Homo sapiens: one gene and its partners. The protein of the gene in region 1 purifies or fractionates together with the protein of each later gene. This does not show direct contact. Each region holds a gene or a part of one and is shown on either strand. Other genes may lie near its edges.

Region 1 (7,032 bases):
TTGCAATGAGCCGAGATGGTGCCACTGCACTCCAGCCTGGGCAACAGAGTGAGACTCCATCTCGAAAAAAAAGGAGAAGTGCCACTTTAATCTCAACTTGGTCAAGATCTTATTTTGTTTGTTTATGAAGATAAACTGAGTACTTAGAGAAAGTAGGGTGAAATAAACACTCTCATTCCCTGCTGGTCTCCAGTCACAAACCCCAAAGAACATAATGCGTGGATTCTGATTACATTTGTTATATTTTGTGACTATGGATAAGTCTTCTCAATCCTCCATCAATTGTGCATGTGCTCTGAATGAAAGGCAGCTTACATCTGTCTCTCCTCCTCCATTTCTAGTACTACTGCCCTATTATAATTCTCATGAAATCTTGCCTAGGTAATTCCCATAGCCATACCTCCCTGCTATCCTTGCTTTCATACTTCTCCAGACTCTCTTGTAAGGTATTTCTGGAATGAGTATCTTTCTTTAAAAAAGAAAAGAGCTCAGCCAGGCGCGGTGGCTCAAGCCTGTAATGCCAGCACTTTGCGAGGCCGAGGCGGGCGGATCACAAGGTCAGGAGATCAAGACCATCCTGGCTAACATGGTGAAACCCCGGCTCTACTAAAAATACAAAAAAAAATTAGCCGGGCATGGTGGCGGGCACATGTAGTCCCAGCTACTCGGTAGGCTGAGGCAGGAGAATGGTGTGAACCTGGGAGGCAGAGCTTGCAGTGAGCCGAGCTCGCGCCACTGCACTCCAGCCTGGGCGACAGAGCGAGACTCCGTCTCACAAAAAAAAAAAAAAAAGACCACATGTCTACTTAGAAAACTGACACTGCTCAAAGTTCTTCAGTGGTCCACTGACTGCAGAAAAAACCTTGGTATGGTATTGAAGATGCTCATTCATTTGGTTCTGACACTTAGTGCGAGTCAACCGAGCCTCAGCATTGTTCCCTGAGTGCTTTTTCACCAGACATCTGTGTGGCTCCCTCCCTTTCATCATTCAGGTCTTTGCTTGTGTGTTAGCTATTTAAAGAAACCCTCTTAGACCACCCATGAAAAGCTGTATACCCCTTCCATGGCTCTCTGTTCTCTTATCCTGCTTTATTTTTTTCCCTTTTAGCACTTATCATTGCCTTGTATATTACATATTTGTTCATTTCTGTATTGTCTATCTCTCCCCATTAGGATATATGTTCCAGGGGAACAAAGACCTCAACATTTTTCTCAGTGCACTATCCCCAGTACCTAGAATAATAGACAACAAATTATTACTGAATAAATTAATGAATCTGTGAACTAGCCTATCTCCATTTGTTTTCTCATAATTATTACCTAGACAGGAATATTCTTTTCTTCCTGGAGTATCTGACAAAAATCACATTCATATTTCAAGCTCTAGCCCCTTAATATGAGGCATAATTTCTTCTTTCCCTGTGTTCCCACCATACTCTGAGTCTCTCCTATGCAAGAGTGTTCATCTTATTTTACTCTATTGGATATGGAAGGGAAGATGACTTTTTCTCACTAGAAAGGCCCTATTCTGTGCCTTCACTCACTTTTCCCCTGTGGAGGTTAGCTCACTCACCTACTGGTCACTTAGGGAAGAATAAACTGGGGAGGCTCAGTTCTGACCCTGCATTTTCCTCCTAGGAGAGAGCTGCCTGCAGAGAGCGTGAGTCCTGATCCCTTGTCCCAGGGCAAAAGAGTTTCAGAGGAAGCCCAACTCCACTGGGCGGGTGAGTCCACGTGATCCCGGGGTCTGACCTGCAAGTCCATTTGCTCTCTCACACTAAGCTACATACTCCAGCCTAACATTTATCAGCAATAAAGGCTGACTCTTTTTCTATTTCTCAAGTTTTTCAGGACCTGGAGAGGAGAAGGAGATGAAGAGTGTCATTTATTGTTTCCTCAGTTATCTCAAGAGGTCCACGTCTATCTCTCTCATGAAGCGTAAGCACTCCTCTGACTCAGAACACTCAGTTAACTGAGGTGCTTTTTAAACAGAGATATGGATTTAGATCATGGAGCATATCCTCTCACCCGTGACCAGTAGCCAATATTGCAGAACAGCTGACAGAAATGTGGTAGGGATGCTGCGTGACTACCTGGGCATTACTCTACAGAGCTGGATCACAGAACCTAACTTCATTAGCATCATAGTCTAATGAGATAACTAGTGAGTGCAATAAATACTTGATGACTACGAATAAAGTCAGCAAAGAAAACAGATTTGGTTTGGATTTTCTAGCCCTCATACCGCACATTCACGTACACACTTTGAAACTACTAAGTTGGGAATGATGTATGCTTAATTATGAATAACCGTTAATTTAATATACTTTTTAAAAATAAAACTGTTTCTCATGGCAGGCAAATTGAGTGCTCCAAATCACTCTGATACATTCACAAAACTCTGGAAGACCTAATTTTGTAAATGGGTCCTTTAGCACACAATTTGACTCTCAGAGTATACTCTCCTCACCCTGGCTCCCCACAGGGTCACTGTACCCACAAAGCACTTAGATTACATTAAAATTCTATAGAATGTGGTTTTATTTCATGAAATAAAATACAAGCAAAATAACTACAGTCTTTCCATTAGAAGAAAATAAAAGAAGAAAGCAAATCTGCTCACCTGAAAAGACATCAAGTCTTTCAGCCCCTGCATCTCTGGAAACAATACAAAAATATTATTTCTTCAATATGAAATGAATTGCTTACATAAGGTATAACCTATTGTCAGATATCAAACAATACAAAAATCCACTTAAATTGCTTCAAAATCAATTTCTAAAACGTTTCACCGTGCTATTATATCATAAGACCTATGATTAGTCATAATTTGAGAATATGAAAAAGACTGCAACTCAGAAATGTGAAAGAAGAGATGGAATTTAGTGGGAATTACACAAAAAACTAACAAAATGGATATAATTTAAAAAAAAAAAAAAAAAACAAAAAAAGCTGGCTGGCAAATAATCCAGAAGTCATGGAATGTTTTTCATATTTTAGTTCAAAAAAAAAAGAAAAATCAAATTACTAGGTAATAGTGTACTATAAGAAGACATTTTAAAGAACATACATGGAAGGAAAGAAATCAACATGTTAATAGGAGTTTTCTCTTTGTTAGAGGTTGGAAAACTATAGCCACGGACCAAAATGGCCCATCAACTGTTTGTAAATAAAGTGTTATTGGAACACAATCATGCCCATTCATTACATAGTATCTAAGGTTGCCTCAGCACTACAGTGGCAGAGTTGAGTAGTTTCAAAGGAGACCCCGTATCCCACAGAGGTGAAAATATTTGCCATCTGGTCTTTTACAGAAAAGGATGCTGACTCCTCTTCTAGGTGATGAGAGTACTGATGAAGACTGTTTTAAAAAAAATTCTCCATTTTCTAAAATTCACAGATATTATTTTTGTATTTTTTTACAATTATTTTTAAAAGTAAAATTTTTAATAGAAAAGAAGAAAAGGCCAGAAGACTCTGGCTTCAATATCGAGGGTGTGAGAGAAAGGAGGAAGGCATAGGCAAGGAAGACTTAGCTGATGAGGAAGAAGGTAAGTTAAGGCAGGGAGGAGTCTAAAAGGAAGCTCAGTGCAACAACAGCAACTATGTAACTCTGGTGGGGAAACCTGAGCGTCTCTCCAAAGTTCCATCAGTTCTAAACCCAAAACTCCCAGACAAATCTGAGTAGGTACACTGTACTTGCTCCACAGGCCTAGAAGTTAGTCCCATATAGCTCCTTCCTCTAGCCAATTGCTGCTTCTCAGCCCTCCCTATATAGACACTCTGGAGTTACCACTGCCATTTCTTGAGCACCTCCCATGTATCAAGTAAGCACTGAATGGTGTATTTTTGAAAATTCTCTTCCGATCCTTACCATAGTTCCATAACACATAGGTATCAATATCTCCATTATATAATCATGCATTATACAAAGTACCATGTACACAATAAATGTTTAATAAATGCCACTGTACTGAAATGTAAGTTTTTAAAGAGGTAGTTTTTTCATGCAGCACTTCCACGGATTAAGGCATAAAATAATTCACCTTTATCATATATTAAGACATTTTATAATAATCTTTGTTCTTTAGCCCAGGATACTTCCTTTCTGAAGAGCTATTGTATTAGGAAGAGGACCCTAACAAATCCTTCCTATATCACCACACATTCTTCTTCTCTCTCTACAATATTCTTTTAATATCTTTCAGTTCTAATTTTTAAAACTACAGGAAATCATTAAAATATTGAATACAATGATATAAAAGAATTTCTTAGAATAACATGGGGACTTCATAAAGTTCTCCTTCGTAAGACCAACTCAGTATCTTAAGTCTGTTAAATAGCTTCTTTTGATGTCAACTACTAGCATCTAAGCAATGGTGGAAAACTCAAACGTCCATGAAGAAAGAGGGACTGAAGGGTTGAGGCTGTCCACGGGGGAAAACTGGAAATGAGGCAAAGCTGAAGGCATGGGCTGGTCCCAAGAGAGCACCTGCTACTCACCTCCAGCCCCTGATCCCGTGGAGGAATGTGGCCTTGAGGTTGCTACTTCTCCTAATCTTTCAAGGAAGGCAGAGGGCCCAAATTTTTTATTTGGTATCTCCAATATCTTAAACCTTATAAACAATTCCTTTTTTCTCCCTTCCTTTTCTTTATAAACACTGTGCAAACTTTCACTATAAGCCAAACACACATAAGACAGGCTGGACCTGGTCAAGGGGCTGCCAGCTTACAAATGCTGCTCTAAGAATTAGTTTATCGATCACATTTCTCTCAGTCCCCTGAGTCTGAAGTCAATCTTTCTTTCCCAATCAACCTCTACTACATAAAATGTTTCTTTTATTCTACTTCTTCCACATTCTGATTTTACTTGTCCTCCTTTGTTGAATGAATGAAAGAAACAACTTCAAAGGAGAAAAGACAGTTGGAAAAATAGATAAATGTGTTCTTTCAGACTTGCAGATGTCAAGTTGCTGAAAGTGGGCCCATTCAGTAGGAGGCAGGACCGATGACATAGGAGGAGCCTTGCTTCCAAGCTTTGAGCAGCAGCAACAGTAGCAACCCTAAGCTCCTTTAGGGAAGCTAATCAAAAGTGTTTATCTTTCTTGGCTTCATCCTTATTAGCTCCTTCCAAGCTGAGTTCATGGCTCTGAACAAGACTTTATTCTTTTTCTCTACTTCCCTCCCTTTTTATGATTCCATTAGCTCAACAGAGAGAGTTTCCTAAAAGGAGGAGATAACGACTTTCTACTTAGTGCAGGGCAGGAATTTCTGGATGGCTGGTTAATTGACTACACTTTGTGGTCACACTCTCAGAAGGGTCATCTCCCATCTAAGGCAAAAAATGGGGAACAAATGCAAAAAAAGCTAAAACACTGTTATCAACCAGTGGCAGGGAATTTAGGCTCCTACTGAGATCCTTGATCTAACAACTGCACATTACTTCCTGGATGGACTTTGCTTTCTAAGCAAAAGGTAGGAAAAAATCTTCTGTTATGGGGAATACCAATATAAAACACGTCAAATGCTTTATTCAATTTAACTGAAAAAAAAAAAAATGAAGCCCCTCACAAGCTCCCACAAATACACTACTGAGCAGAACTTAAACTGTTTAACGGGTTCCTTAATCATTAATACATTTATTAGAGACAGTAAAATACGACAGTGAGGTTCTGCAGCCAGACTGCCCAAATTTGAATGCCAGCTCTGCCAAATATGAATTATGTGACTTTGAATAAATCATCTAATCTCTCTATGCATCAATTTCCACACATGTAGAACTAGGATATTAATTCCCATCTCAGAGTGTAGATATAAGGATGCATGACATAATGCTCATATATAAAGTGCTTATGTATGTCTGATATATAGTAAGAGATCAATAAGTTAGCTATTTTCTTAACTATACAATTTGCTTCTACGCAGACTTCAATAAATGCCCAAATACATGTGTAAATTCTCAAGACAAGTATACACTGACATATAATTCAAAAAATATCTAAATGAATATGTACAATTAAATGGTTATTAACATAAAAACAGACTTCAAGTTTGATCATAAATTAAAATTAAATAAAGGTGAATAATTATTTCTCTCAACTATCCTTTTTCCTAGAACACCTTGATTTTATAGGAAATCAAGTCACAAAACATTCCAGATGGGAAAATATGACATGATCTTTTTATCTTCCCATGTAATTAGACAAGAGTTATGTCATGAAATTCCCTCAGTAACTGTTGTTTACAGATAAACCTTACCTTGCATTGTCCAGCAATTCAGCCAGTGCTCCAAAAAGGAAACTGTGAGTGGTGCTGATGAAGAAATAAAGAGAAAACAAAAAGTTAAACCAGGTGTGTAATCAATGTAAAAGCTTTAAGATTCTTGCAGACAAACGTTCTCCAGTTCCAGACATCTAGTGAATTAAGAAGTTACTCTAGAAACAACTCTCTCAGCACGGTCAAGATTCGGAACTAGATACCCTCCATTATGAAGCGAGGGTTAAAAACACTTTTGCCAAAATATCCTGTCCACTTCTAATAAAATAAAAATTTAAGGGCCTTAGTATCTATCATTGAAATAAACTTTGACCTTTTAATATTACTTTATAAGCATGTTTTCAAGTGAGGTTTTTCCCAGAGGATTTTTCATTAAAATTGTATTATTTAAAGACAAGATATTTCTGAAGAATACTGATCAAAATCCTTGCCTACTAAAAGGCCATAAGGCTCCATGTGCAGGCAAAGGAACTGGCAGGAAGCCCTTGCGTGCCTCACCAATCTGTATTTTTCTGCAGAATCTTTCCACCGCTGAAAAGCCTGCTCCTTACATAACCTTAAAAATGGCCTCAGGTCACTTTCTCCTGTACCCTCGAATGCCAGGTCCTCGGTAACAGAATGCTCCAGACAGCCTTCAGTATTTACAACAGTTTGGAGGGTGCACAGTTATCTGAGGGTGGAATCACACTAGCTTAAGGCTCCCATGCTTGCTTCTCATGTCCTGATGAGGCATATTTCAATCAGCAACCTTATCAC
Region 2 (6,102 bases), on another chromosome or scaffold:
GCCTGTAATCCCAACACTTTGGGAAGGTGAGGTGGGTGGATCGCTTGAGGCCAGAAGTTCGAGGCTATAGTGCGCAATGATAGCACCTGTGAATAGCCACTACCCTCCAGCCTAGGCAACATAACAAGACTCTGCCCCCCAAATAAGCACAAGAAAGAAAACAATGTCACAACTTGCCTGAAGCTACTTAGTAACAAAACCAGACAGAGACACCAGGTCTCCTGACTCTCAGTTTAATGCTCCCAAGATTTTACTTCCCTCTACACAAAGTCTTTTCTTTTTTTCCATAGACTTGGAACGCCAGTTGGAGGAGCAGAAGAAGCAAGGCCAGGATCACAGGCTGAAATCTCAGACAGTTCAAAATGTGGTACTGATGCCTGTGAGCACTCCTAAGCCTCCAAAAAGGCCCCGGCTCCAGCGGCCAGCCTCCACCACTGTCTTGAGCCCTTCTCCTCCTGTCCAGCAGCCTCAGTTCACAGTCATCTCACCCATCACCATCACCCCAGTGGGTCAGTCATTTTCCATGGGCAATATTCCAGTGGCCACCCTCAGCCAGGGCTCCAGTCCTGTGACTGTCCACACACTGCCTTCTGGCCCTCAGCTCTTCCGCTATGCCACAGTGGTCTCCTCTGCCAAGAGCAGCTCACCAGACACAGTGACCATCCACCCTTCATCTAGCTTGGCGCTGCTGAGCTCTACTGCCATGCAGGATGGGAGTACACTGGGCAACATGACCACCATGGTTAGCCCTGTGGAATTGGTGGCCATGGAGTCCGGCCTAACCTCGGCAATTCAGGCTGTTGAAAGCACCTCAGAGGATGGGCAGACCATCATTGAGATTGATCCAGCCCCGGACCCAGAAGCTGAAGATACTGAGGGCAAAGCAGTCATCTTGGAGACAGAGCTGAGGACTGAGGAGAAAGTTGTGGCTGAGATGGAAGAACACCAGCATCAAGTTCACAATGTGGAGATTGTGGTCTTAGAGGATTAACTGGGGATCTCAGGGCCAGGAGTTATGTTTTGATTTGGAATTTTAATTATTTGTTTATTTTTATCATTGTCCCACTCATTTCCACATAGGACCCTTTTTTAAAAAAAAAAAAACAAAATCTTATTGTTGTAACTGAAAATGTTGGGTTCTTCCCACTCCCTCATTGAAAAATGGACAAAACAAGCTGCCCTTCCAGAAGTTGAGAGTAGGTCATTCAATGTCCTAATCATCTTACACCAAGAAAGTAATTTCTTTTAGGGGAAGTGTCAAGATAACAAGTAACCCTGTCCAGAAAGCCATTTCCAGGCTCGTCTGTGTGTGTAGGCATGTGGTTTTATTCTTGTAAAGATGCATTGACCAAACTCTGGAACACAGATCTGACACTGGAAGGCAACCCACTCGCATGTGGATGCTGAAGGGCACTTTATTTTGTATCCTGAAAAGGGCCTACAGAGGCCAGTACAAAACTCTCAAACAAAAGGAAGTTGACTCTGCTTTGAGGGGAAGGTGGCATGCCAGCACTAGCTTAAAAAGGGAAGTGCTAGCCGGGCGTGGTGGCTCACGCCTGCAATCCCAGCACTTTGGGAGGCCGAGGCGGGTGGATCACGAGGTCAGGAGTTTGAGACCAGCCTGGCCAACATGGTGAAACCCCGTATCTACTAAAAATACGAAAAAAAAATTAGCCGGGTGTGGTGGCGGGAGCCTGTAATCCCAGCTATTCAGGAGGCCAAGGCAGGAGAATCGCTTGAACCTGGGAAGGCAGAGGTTGCAGTGAGCCAAGATCGCACCACTGCACTCCAGCCTGGGCAACAAGAGCGAGACTCCATCTCAAAAAAAAAAAAAAAAAAAAGTGCTTTGGCAAGTATGGGGCAGGGAAATCATCTTACTTCCAGAGGTGCAACTGACGCCTCTGGAGATCTCCAAAAGTTAGTACCGTGAGTGCCATTTTGAGAAGAAGGTGGTAATAAGTGGAAGGTACATCTCCACAGAGCAAGTGGCAGCAGTGGCCTGTGGTTTTGCAGAAATGGAAAGCCAAGGCCGGGTGCGGTGGCTCATGCCTGTAATCCCAGCACTTTGGGAGGCCGAGGTGGGTGAATCACCTGAGGTCAGGAGTTTGAGGCCAGCCTGGCCAACATGGTGAAACCCCGTCTCTACTGAAAATACAAAAAAAAAAAATTAGCTGGGCATGGTGGCACGCGCCTGTAATCCCAGCTACTTGGGAGGCTGAGGCAGGAGAATTGCTTGAACCTGGGAGGCGGAGGTTGCAGTGAGCTGAGATCATGCCATTGCACTCTAGCCTGGGCGAGGAGTGAAACTCCGTCTCAAAAAAAAAGAAAGAAATGGAAAGCCAAGGATGCTGCAGCTGTGCTTTGGGGTTCAAGGTAATAGCTTACCTTGTTCCACACTTTGTCAAAGCACTCACCCTCCTAAGCTAGGACCAGTCCATTCATTTGAAACTGTGCAATGTGATGTAAATGGCTCTGGTTCTTAGACTGTGGCTGTCACAGGGATGGGGCTCCAAGGCCATCATTTTCATTGCATGGCTCCAAGAGCAGGGAGTTCCTCAATGAAACCAGCTGCCTTTTTTGGTGGGGCCATTTTTTTGGCTTTGGAACCCAAAGCAGCCACTCATTTGGTGCTTCCTCTTGTTCTGCCCTCCATCCCTCAACTCTTAATGGCATCTGTCTCCTAGAACCCACGCTCTTCAGCTTTTTGGCTGATTTGGAGAACAGTGACAGGTGCCTGCCTGCCTTCGTCCCCTTTTAGATTCATTTATACCACAGATGTTTCTGTGAGATACTGAGATCATAAAAAGCTTTAGGCTTGGCAGAGAGGACTCAACACCCCCAGGCTTTCCTGAGGCACCAACTAGATGTCTCTTGAGTGAGCTGGACTCCCTGGGAAAGAAGCATTGTCTGCAACATTATATTATAGGAAATGTACCAGGAATGTCAATAATAATGCTTTGGGGGGGGGGGTTATTTTGTTTTGTTTTGTTTTTAATGTTGTTTGTATATTTAGAGCTGGGCCATTTTCCGTGCTGCGATTTCTTCTCTTTGACCCTCTTCAGTGTTTGGGGCAAGAGTGGACCCTGGTTTTTATTTCTTTGATTGCATTGTTTACTGCACTAGGAAAAATATAGAGATACAGGGAAACTACAGACAAATTTAAGGAAAAATAGGTCAAAAAAGAAAGCACACACCTTAAGAGTGGGAGGAATATTTTTATTAAAAACAAAACTTGGACCTGTAGTTTTTTTTTTTCTTTTTTATTTTTAAGAAGGCACCTTTCAGAAGCCATGTTTCTTCCAACAGATGTTGGAAACCCCATCGAGCAAGTAAAAGTTGCATTCTCCATCCCTCAGATGGCTGTATGTAGTCAAAGAAACCCTGTAACATGGTAAGGTTGCTGTTTTTTTTTTTTTTTTCTTTTTGAGATGGAGTCTTGCTCTGTAGCCCAGGCTGGAGTGCAATGGTGTGATCTCAGCTCACTGCAACCTCCGCCTCCTTGGTTCAAGTGATTCTCCTGCCTCAGCCTCCTGAGTAGCTGGGATTACAGGCTCCCACCACCACGCCCGGGTAATTTTTGTATTTTTAGTAGAGACGGGGTTTTGCCATGTTGGCCAGGCTGGTCTTGAACTCCTGACCTCAAGCGATCCGCCCGCCTTGGCCTCCCAAAGTGTTGGGATTACAGGCATGAGCCACCGCACCCAGCCTGAAGGTGACTCTTAAGAATGAGATTTATGAACTCCATACAGTTGTAGATTTCAGTTTTTAAATAGTCTGGGGTTTTATTTTTCTTTTCAAAATATCTAATAGACTTAGCAATCAATTTAGAACAAATATTTGGCCCTTAATATATCTTTAGTGAGGGAAGTAGCTTTTATTTCCTGCTTGTTTAGGTTTTCTGTTGGTACATAAAAACAAAATTGCTGTCTCAGACTGAATCTACTTGAATCTAGGAAGGCACATCTCATCCCTATTGTGGTTTTTAGGGACACTTTTCTCTTTCCCAGAGATGAGAGGACCAATTCAGGACAGAAGAGCCCTCGTGAATACCAACGTGCTAGCTCAGGTTCCCTTCTTTCCTCCATCAGAGCTATTGGTAGGGTTTTAAGGTCGTGTGTGCATCATGCTTCCAATGTCAAGAGATTTCCTCAAACAGCCTGTTTACTAGATGAATTTTCCAGCTGGTGAAATACATGAGCTTTGTTGTTTTCCTGGTCTTCCAATAGCCTGTCATTATTGTTAGATATTATGGCACCTGTTGTTGAATGTAGGTTCCCTTACAGCCCTGGTCTAGATGATCCTAGATGGGGTGAGACATATGCAAGCCATTGGTATGTGCATAAGCAGTTGCAATGAACCTTAGGCTGACTTGGTAGTAGGCATTTGTCTTTCTGTTCATGCATTGAATAAACATTTTTAAGAACCATCTATGTGCCAGGCTTTGTGCTAGGCACTGACAGTAGAGAGATGAAGACATAGTCCTTGCACTTAAGGAATTCATACTCCAGATGTCTGGAGTTAAGAAATACATATTTCAGCCAGGCATGGTGGCTCACACCTAGAATCCCAGCACTTTCAGAAGCTGAGGCAGAATTGCTTGAGGCCAAGAGTTTAAGACTAGCCTGGTCAACATAGCCAGACCCCATCTCTATAAAAAAATGTAAAAATTAGTCAAGTCTTGTGGCTCGCACTTGTAGACACAATTACTCAGGATGCTGAGGCAAGAGGATTTTGCTTGGGCCTAGGAGTTCAAGGCTGTAGTGAGCTATGACTTTGCCACTGTACTCTAGCCCAGGTAACAGGGCAACATCCCCAGCTCAGAAAACCAAAACTACACATTTCATTATAATTGTTTTTTTTTGTAATTTTATGTATTTTATGCATTGAAAAACATTATTTAAGAATTGGTTCATAGGTTTCAGCAGACTGCCAAAGGCACAAACAAGCAGCTCTCCTTTACTGAGGTACTGAAACAGATCCTACTGCGTAAGTGCTGTGTGTGATAGGGCTATTGGCTAGGAGCTGAGAGAACAAAGCATGAAGTGCCTAACCCAGCTTAGCGGTGTAGAGGTGGGGTCAGCAAATAAGGGAGATCTTCCTGGAGAAGGCATATACCTAAGCTGATTTAGGAGAGACCACTTTTGGCTAGGTTTATTGTACTACTTGATTTTCAAGTAATTGGGCTTATTTATTCTAGAGAAAAAGTCTTCAGTCTCTTGCTTCTGCCTGCAAAGCAAGGCAGAGTCAGCAACATGGGCAGTCTCCCCACTGGAGAACGCTGAGTCATGCATGGGCTTCTCCAAGTTTCCATCAGATGGGATCCAGTGTTGAATCCAGTGCAGGACTGGAGTCTAGCTGGCAAAGGGTAAATGCCCCCAAAGCCTTCCTGCCATATGGTTTCCACGAAGGCCTGAGAGTCAGCTGTACAACTGTCTTGTCTTGGCCATGTCCCTGTTTGGTCCCTGCCTTGTTCTCTTCCCTTTCTCAATTTCCAAGCTCCACCCACTCCTAAAAACACCAGTCATTCTGAAGTAAAAAATGGACAATAAACATGAATATTCAAGATTCAAAGCCACTTCATATGAAGGTTCTTTTGCACCTCTGTCCTTATTAGGGAAGGAGGACCAATGTTAATCCAAACATCTGGAAAATTAATATTCAGTTCAGGTGGTTCTGACACCCACTAGTGGTAGCATTTTATCCCATTTCATGAAAGGCATTAAAGGTAAGACTATGGTGGAGAGTGTTGATTATAAAGATAGTAAAAGTCAAGCATGAAATGTGGAATTAGTAGTTGAGTTATAGCATCCAGGTTTTAGTACTATCAGAGAGGTGGAAAGGACAAAGGAAAGGTTGAATTCTGAAAATCGGCATGAGGTTGTGATTCACCTTGGGCAGTTTGAGGAACTCGTCCTCTCTGAGACATAATGTCATACACTAGCCTAGCTCCTGCATTTTGAGACAACTTTCCTAGTACAATTGATCACTTCCCTGGAGGTGCAGCACATCCCTTACTCCAGGTTAGTTCCTCCCTGGGAAATCCTCCCTGGGAAATTTTTGTGTAGTCTGAAATGTGCTGCCATAACAACCAAGGTTGTCAAG
Region 3 (5,863 bases), on another chromosome or scaffold:
TACATGCTAAGTGCCTGCTAGCAGTTGCTGGCCTTTCTGTAACACCTTCCACTTGGCTGCCCTCCCCACTGAGACATGTTGTAAACTACCCTGTTCTTTAATTCCATCACGTGCTCATTTTGTCTTTGTAGGTTCTTCATAGGAAGGGCCAGATGGCATTACTGTGGTCCTCTTCCTCCTTGTCTGGTAGAGTCGCCCTCCACATGAGGTAGCTGGGGCTGTCCAGAGAAGGATGCGTGGTACTGAGAGGGGCGGAGCAGCTGAGGGAACAAAGTCAGAGAGACCCAGGATGACAGAAGAACAATGGAAAATAGGGGCTTCCAACCCAGAGGGATCTCCTAGAACCACACGGTTCTCTGATACGTTATTTCCAAGTGAAGCCCACCCTCAATGTAAAGAAATGTTTCTGAATGGGTCAAAAAGCCATCAGAGCAAGACCAGCCTGGAAGCTCATTCTGTTCTGGGCTAATGTCTGCCTCGATGGTAACCCCTAGTCAGAAGCTCCGCAGGAAGCAATACCAAGAGCCACGCTCCAATTCCTGAATCTGCTTTATTTCTCTGCATAAGGAACCCTGAACAGGCAATTCAAATTAAAACAAAATAAATATATGAATATTCATGTAAAACTGTCCTTTCTAATGAACAATTATACACAATGTACAATTTCATGTTCACTGGGTGGATTTACAAAAATGTACCATTCCCAACTAAAAATGCACCAAAATGGTTTCATGCAAACTTATCAAAAGTGACCAAAAATATGGAGGGAAAAACCTGACTGAGAGCACTTCGTTTTTGTTGTTTTTGTACAATCACAGAAAAATAAAAACATCTAATTTCTTTGTTACATTTAGAGTAACTAAATGTGGCCATTGTTTATAATGTTGGTTTATGTTCTTATAACATCTATGTAGTTACCATAAAAGTATATCAACATCAAATCAGAAGTGAGCATTATTGAGGGAGAGAAGGGAGGGTGAGAGCACCCGCACGGTCAGTAGTCAGTGTCGGAGCCCTCGGCGTTGTCCACGTTTCTCGAGAGCATGTAGTTGTCCATGTCGATTGAGCGGCAGTTGTTGATGGCATAGCGCAGGCGCTCGGCCATGACCAGCTGGCTGGAGTACGGGGGCAGCCTCAGCTGGAAGAAGCAGGTCTGTGAGGTAGGCAGACTGTCGTAAGGCTGTGGAGAGAGACCCAGAGCCGTGACTGGGGACATCAGAGTGCCATAAGGGGGAGTGGGGCTGCCCATGACCTCTCCCTGCCTTCAAGATGGAATTAACATGGCCACATGGTTAAGTCAAGTGGACACAGAGACTGGGCCAGATAGAATGAGCTGAGGCCCTACTGCCCCGTGGCCCTCGAGGCTCTGGGTGAAGATGTTCCTTCTTGTCCTCACCTCCTCCAGTGCCTGTGTGTGTAAAGTGAGGAGAAGCTCTGACTGGCAGGATTGCTTGAGAGAATACACTACGCACAGCGCCTGGCACAGGATGAGAGTGTAGTAAGAGGGCACCTGTCCTTCATACCCATCCACCAAGAGGGTGCAGACTGGAAGCCAGCTGCAGGGATGCCCCCACAGAGCAGGTAGAATGGAAAGAACGACTGTGAGGTGCAGCTGGCCATGGGAGCCTCTTTGCCCCCTCTCCTCTCCCTGTCCTCATGTGCATTCTGCCTCCTTTGCAGGCGCCATGGCTGCCTCGCACAGCTCACATAAGGAAGGGGCAGTCAATTAAACTCCAGTCCATCCATTCAACTGACGGTGATGCATCATTTAAAATGATAATTATGATGACTGGCAGCAAAACAGAAAGGTGTTCAGGATACATTAGGAGGTTAAAGGCAGAAAAAATTCTAGATACATCATATAAAAATTTGTACAATTGAGGCAAAGACTATGAGGAATTTCACAAAGGTAAAAATAGCTACTACTGGAGAGACAGGATTATATACGTTCCCTATCCCTCCTTGCAAACATAACTATTTTCTAAACAATTTGTAATAATAGTAATGGCATTATAGTGTTTTTATAAATTTTTAAAACGTTTGCTTAAAAAAAAAAAAAAGAACCTGTCTTCTCTCACTCAACCTCCTCTTGAAATCAGCCCTCCTCCCCAGAGCCCACACCTAGGTAAGCCACATGTCCTGCTATGGGAGGTGGATGGCCCAGCAGCCCAAATGCACCAGAGCCAGTGATGACACAGCTCAACGCAGAAAAACTGAAAGCAGCAAGGAAGGGAGGTGCCACTAGGTGGCTCTGATGACCTAAATGTGAGTACTGTAGAAATGATCTAAAAGCCACAGAGGAACCGACCACGGTAGTCAGTTACTGATGCTGACAACCCTGAGACCGGAGATTAGTGGTGGATTAACTCCTAGAACGGCAGGAGTAGCCCAGGACAGATATAAGGCAAGGGTTGTTTCCAGAGCTGAGTAGAAATGAGCCATTTCCTCCTTCCTACTTCTCTCTGAAGCAACAAAACAGATTTACAACTTACAGTTCTTGGCAAGTCATGCAGAAAATTTATGGAAAGGCTCTTTTATAATCCTTCCTGCACGTGGCTTCTCCAGCAAGCCTAGCCCAGGAGCAGAGCAGCAGCCTGCAGCCTCAGGAGGCAGCACAGGGAGGAATAGCTTTGGCTACACCAGAAAGCCAGACACTTAAACTGGCAGGAAGGGCCTGTGTGTGAAGAGGCCCCACTTCCCTTACTGTTTTCTGAACAAACATCATGGGCCCTGCTCAGAGAACTGCCCAGCTCATGTGGGAGAGAGGGCTTGTGAAGAGTGGGGATGGAGACAGAGGGAGGAGAGGCACTCCTAACTGAATGCAGTAAGTTCTGGGTTTGAGGGCTGTACCCAGTGTTCAGGAGGTGGAGAGAAGGAGTCTGGCTAGGTCTGCCTTCAGCAATGGTAGGGGCACTCCTGGAAAGCATCTAGGAGGGGTTCTTGGAGGAGATGACTGGCATTGGGCTTATAGGATGAGTAAGTGCTTGCCAGAGATAGAAGGAAAGGGGTGTGAAGAAGGACTTACTAAAGCAGAGGGAACAGGTTACATAAAAGCACAGAATTTTAAAAACAGCCTGGTCTACTGGGGAGAAAGGCAAGCAGCCCATTATGACCAGAACATGAGAAGTATCAAGACGTCACATCAGAAAGTGGGGCAGAGGCCAGACTGTGGAAGTGTTTAAGGCAGCTAAGGTCATTGGCATTTATTTCGGAGTCAACAAAGGGGGTCTCTGAAAGGTCTAAAAGGAGGAGAGTGACATGGTCAGACAGGTGCTTAAGAAAGATGACTCTGGCAGCAGTGTGCTTTTCAGACTCTAAGCCCTCTTATTCCTAAGCCATCTGTCAAAATCACAGCTGGGCTGGGGCTCTGCAGCTGGGGCCTTTCATCAGATGGCAGAGATGCAGCCCTGCCTGCTCCACAAGGCACACAACACAAGTGGGCACAGAGGTTATCGTTGCTCCCCACATCTTTGGGTTCCTTCTGGGGCACACCCACCAGTTAATGGTTAATATTTTCATGAAAACAAACAAGGCCATGCCTCAGCACAGGAAGAGGCAGTATGATGATCCTTCTGCCAAGTTCAGCTTTAACTCAGGAAGATGCTGGAAGATTTAGGGAAGGTTGTTGGTTGTAGTATGCTCTCTTCATCCACTTAGGACTCTTCCCACTGAAGCTAAATGATATTTCTAAACAAATTTTACTGCTTGATTTTTTTCATTAATCTGGAAATTCTAAGTATTAATAAGCATGAATCGGCAGGCCTACTTGAGGGTCATAGTTTGTTTTCCCCAACATAAAAGCAACAAGGCGCAGAGGGCCAGGCGTGTTGGCTCACGCCTGTAATCCCAGCACTTTGGGAGGCCAACGTGACCAGATCACCTGAGGTCAGTAGTTCAAGACCAGCCTGGCCAACATGGTGAATCCCCGTCTCTACCAAAATATACAAAAAAATTAGCCAGGCGTGGTGGCACGCACCTGTAGTCCCAGCTACTGCGGAGGCTGAGGCAGGAGAACTGCTTGAAGCTAGGAAGCGGAGGTTGCAGTAAGCTAAAATCATGCCACTGCACTCCAGCCTGGGCCACAGAGTGAGACCCTGTCTCAACAAAAACAACAATGAAGCAATAAGGCAGACATTACAAAGGAAAAAAGAATAGCTTACTTACCCTATCAACCTTCATGATTTGAAATCTCTGAGAAATGTCAGCAGTGTTGGCTGGTAGTCGAGATCTTCCTGACACAAACCTCATGAAAAGCACCCGCTCCTCATTGGAGAACTCTTCCAGCGTGTGCCAGAACCACTGCACCAGCTGATGCTGCTCATCCACCTCACGGTACCGCACCACTTTCTTCAAGACTTCCACAGAGATCTCGGGCATCCCACACACCATCTGCTCCAGTTGTTTTGCTGTGAGGAGGGACAGCAGCGGCACAGGAACAATCCAGGACATCCCTTCTCGGACTGCAGCCACCTGCTCCCGGGAGAGGTTGCTCATTCAATGAGTGTGCGTGAACCTGGCACCCACCAAGGGCCCTGTGGGGCTAGGCGCCTCCTGATGCCTGCTCGTCCGCTCCCCAGACCCTCTACTTGTTTCTCAGACCGCCAGGCACGAGAGTCAGTCAAAAAGGCCCACCCTCCCTGCCTCTCAACCCTTGTTAGAGTGCCTCCCTGCTGTGGGATTCTTACACTCCTGGTTCCAGTTCAAGTCCAATTTAGGAGCCTGCCTTCCCTCTACCACAAAATCTCAGCCCACTGGGGCCTTCCCTGATGCCAGCCCCACTCACTCATATTCCTAATCATATGTGCCCATGTGCTGTCAAACTATGCATGTGTGGACACTTCATCTCATAAAGGTAAGAAGCTTTGGGGGCACTCAACTAGCTGCCTACTGTTTTTTAAATTTATATTTGTCTTTTGAAAATAATTATATCCTTTTTGTAAAAATTATTTGTGCTCATCGTAAAAAAAATCTGAAAAGTACAAAGAAGAAAGTAAAAATGGGAAGTCCTTCTTTAGGAAGGCAATAGAAGAGGCAATGAATTTAGTGAAGAGACTTGGGTTCTAACTCCCAGCTCTGCCAATTATTAACTCTCTTAATTTTTCCGTCTGAAAAAAGCAGATATTGCTGCTCTCATGTGGCTCTGATGAGAACTGTATATGAGTAACTACATGAAATTCTGTGTGACTGGGTAATTCTACCCTGCTCTGTTCTCTTAGCATCATAGTGCTGGGCACAGGCAAGTTGGGGAGTGCCAAGTAGGGTGCAACCAGGGGCTGCCTTGACAGCTTGTTTAGAAAAATGTCTCCTCCAATATTATACAGTAGTGCATACCCTACACACAGACTCACCACTGTTCAAGGTTTGTTTCATAAATACTTCTTTGCTCTTGGCCAACTCAAAACCATCTACCACCATTTAAAAAGTCTAAGAATCTGAATAGGGACCATACCTTAAGGAAGTGAGTAACTATGTGAGGTGATGGATATGTTAATTTGCTTCACTATAATAACCTTTTTACTATCTATATGCATATCCTATATTATCGTGTTGTACACCTTAAATATACATAATAAAATTTATTATATATATAAAAAAAAACTGGGCCAAGTACAATGGTTTGCCCTGTCATCCCAGCTACTTGGAAGGCTAAGGCAGGAGATCCCTTGAGCCCAACAGTTCAAAGCTGCAGTGAGTGCCACTGCACTCCAGCCTGGGTGACAGAGCAAGACCCTCTCTTAAAAAATAAAATAATAAAAAACTGGCACTAAGGTTGTCCCATAAGGATCAGAGATTGGCAGTAAAGGCAGTCTCTTCTGATAGTAAAGGTCAATACCCCACCAAAGTCTGCCAAACGAAAACAAAA

What was found. The genes of interacting proteins can lie anywhere in the genome.
Region 2: the proteins of MORC1 (region 1) and GMEB1 purify together in Homo sapiens (affinity purification with mass spectrometry; 2 studies listed by BioGRID and IntAct, with this or other methods). This does not show direct contact.
Region 3: the proteins of MORC1 (region 1) and HERC1 purify together in Homo sapiens (affinity purification with mass spectrometry; 3 studies listed by BioGRID and IntAct, with this or other methods). This does not show direct contact.

What each region holds. Positions count from the first base shown.
Region 1 is NC_000003.12:109,108,126-109,115,157, forward strand, and holds part of MORC1 (MORC family CW-type zinc finger protein 1), read right to left. Parts: intron 6,313-7,032; coding exon 6,259-6,312; intron 2,664-6,258; exon of another isoform or gene 2,659-2,663; coding exon 2,624-2,658; intron 2,216-2,623; exon of another isoform or gene 1,844-2,215; intron 1,725-1,843; exon of another isoform or gene 1,639-1,724; intron 1-1,638. UniProt on the Homo sapiens protein: Required for spermatogenesis. Essential for de novo DNA methylation and silencing of transposable elements in the male embryonic germ cells.
Region 2 is NC_000001.11:28,713,783-28,719,884, forward strand, and holds the end of GMEB1 (glucocorticoid modulatory element-binding protein 1), read left to right. Parts: intron 1-290; coding exon 291-991; 3' UTR 992-5,571; downstream 5,572-6,102. UniProt on the Homo sapiens protein: Trans-acting factor that binds to glucocorticoid modulatory elements (GME) present in the TAT (tyrosine aminotransferase) promoter and increases sensitivity to low concentrations of glucocorticoids. Also binds to the transferrin receptor promoter.
Region 3 is NC_000015.10:63,608,087-63,613,949, forward strand, and holds the end of HERC1 (probable E3 ubiquitin-protein ligase HERC1), read right to left. Parts: intron 4,471-5,863; coding exon 4,165-4,470; intron 1,181-4,164; coding exon 995-1,180; 3' UTR 532-994; downstream 1-531. UniProt on the Homo sapiens protein: Involved in membrane trafficking via some guanine nucleotide exchange factor (GEF) activity and its ability to bind clathrin. Acts as a GEF for Arf and Rab, by exchanging bound GDP for free GTP.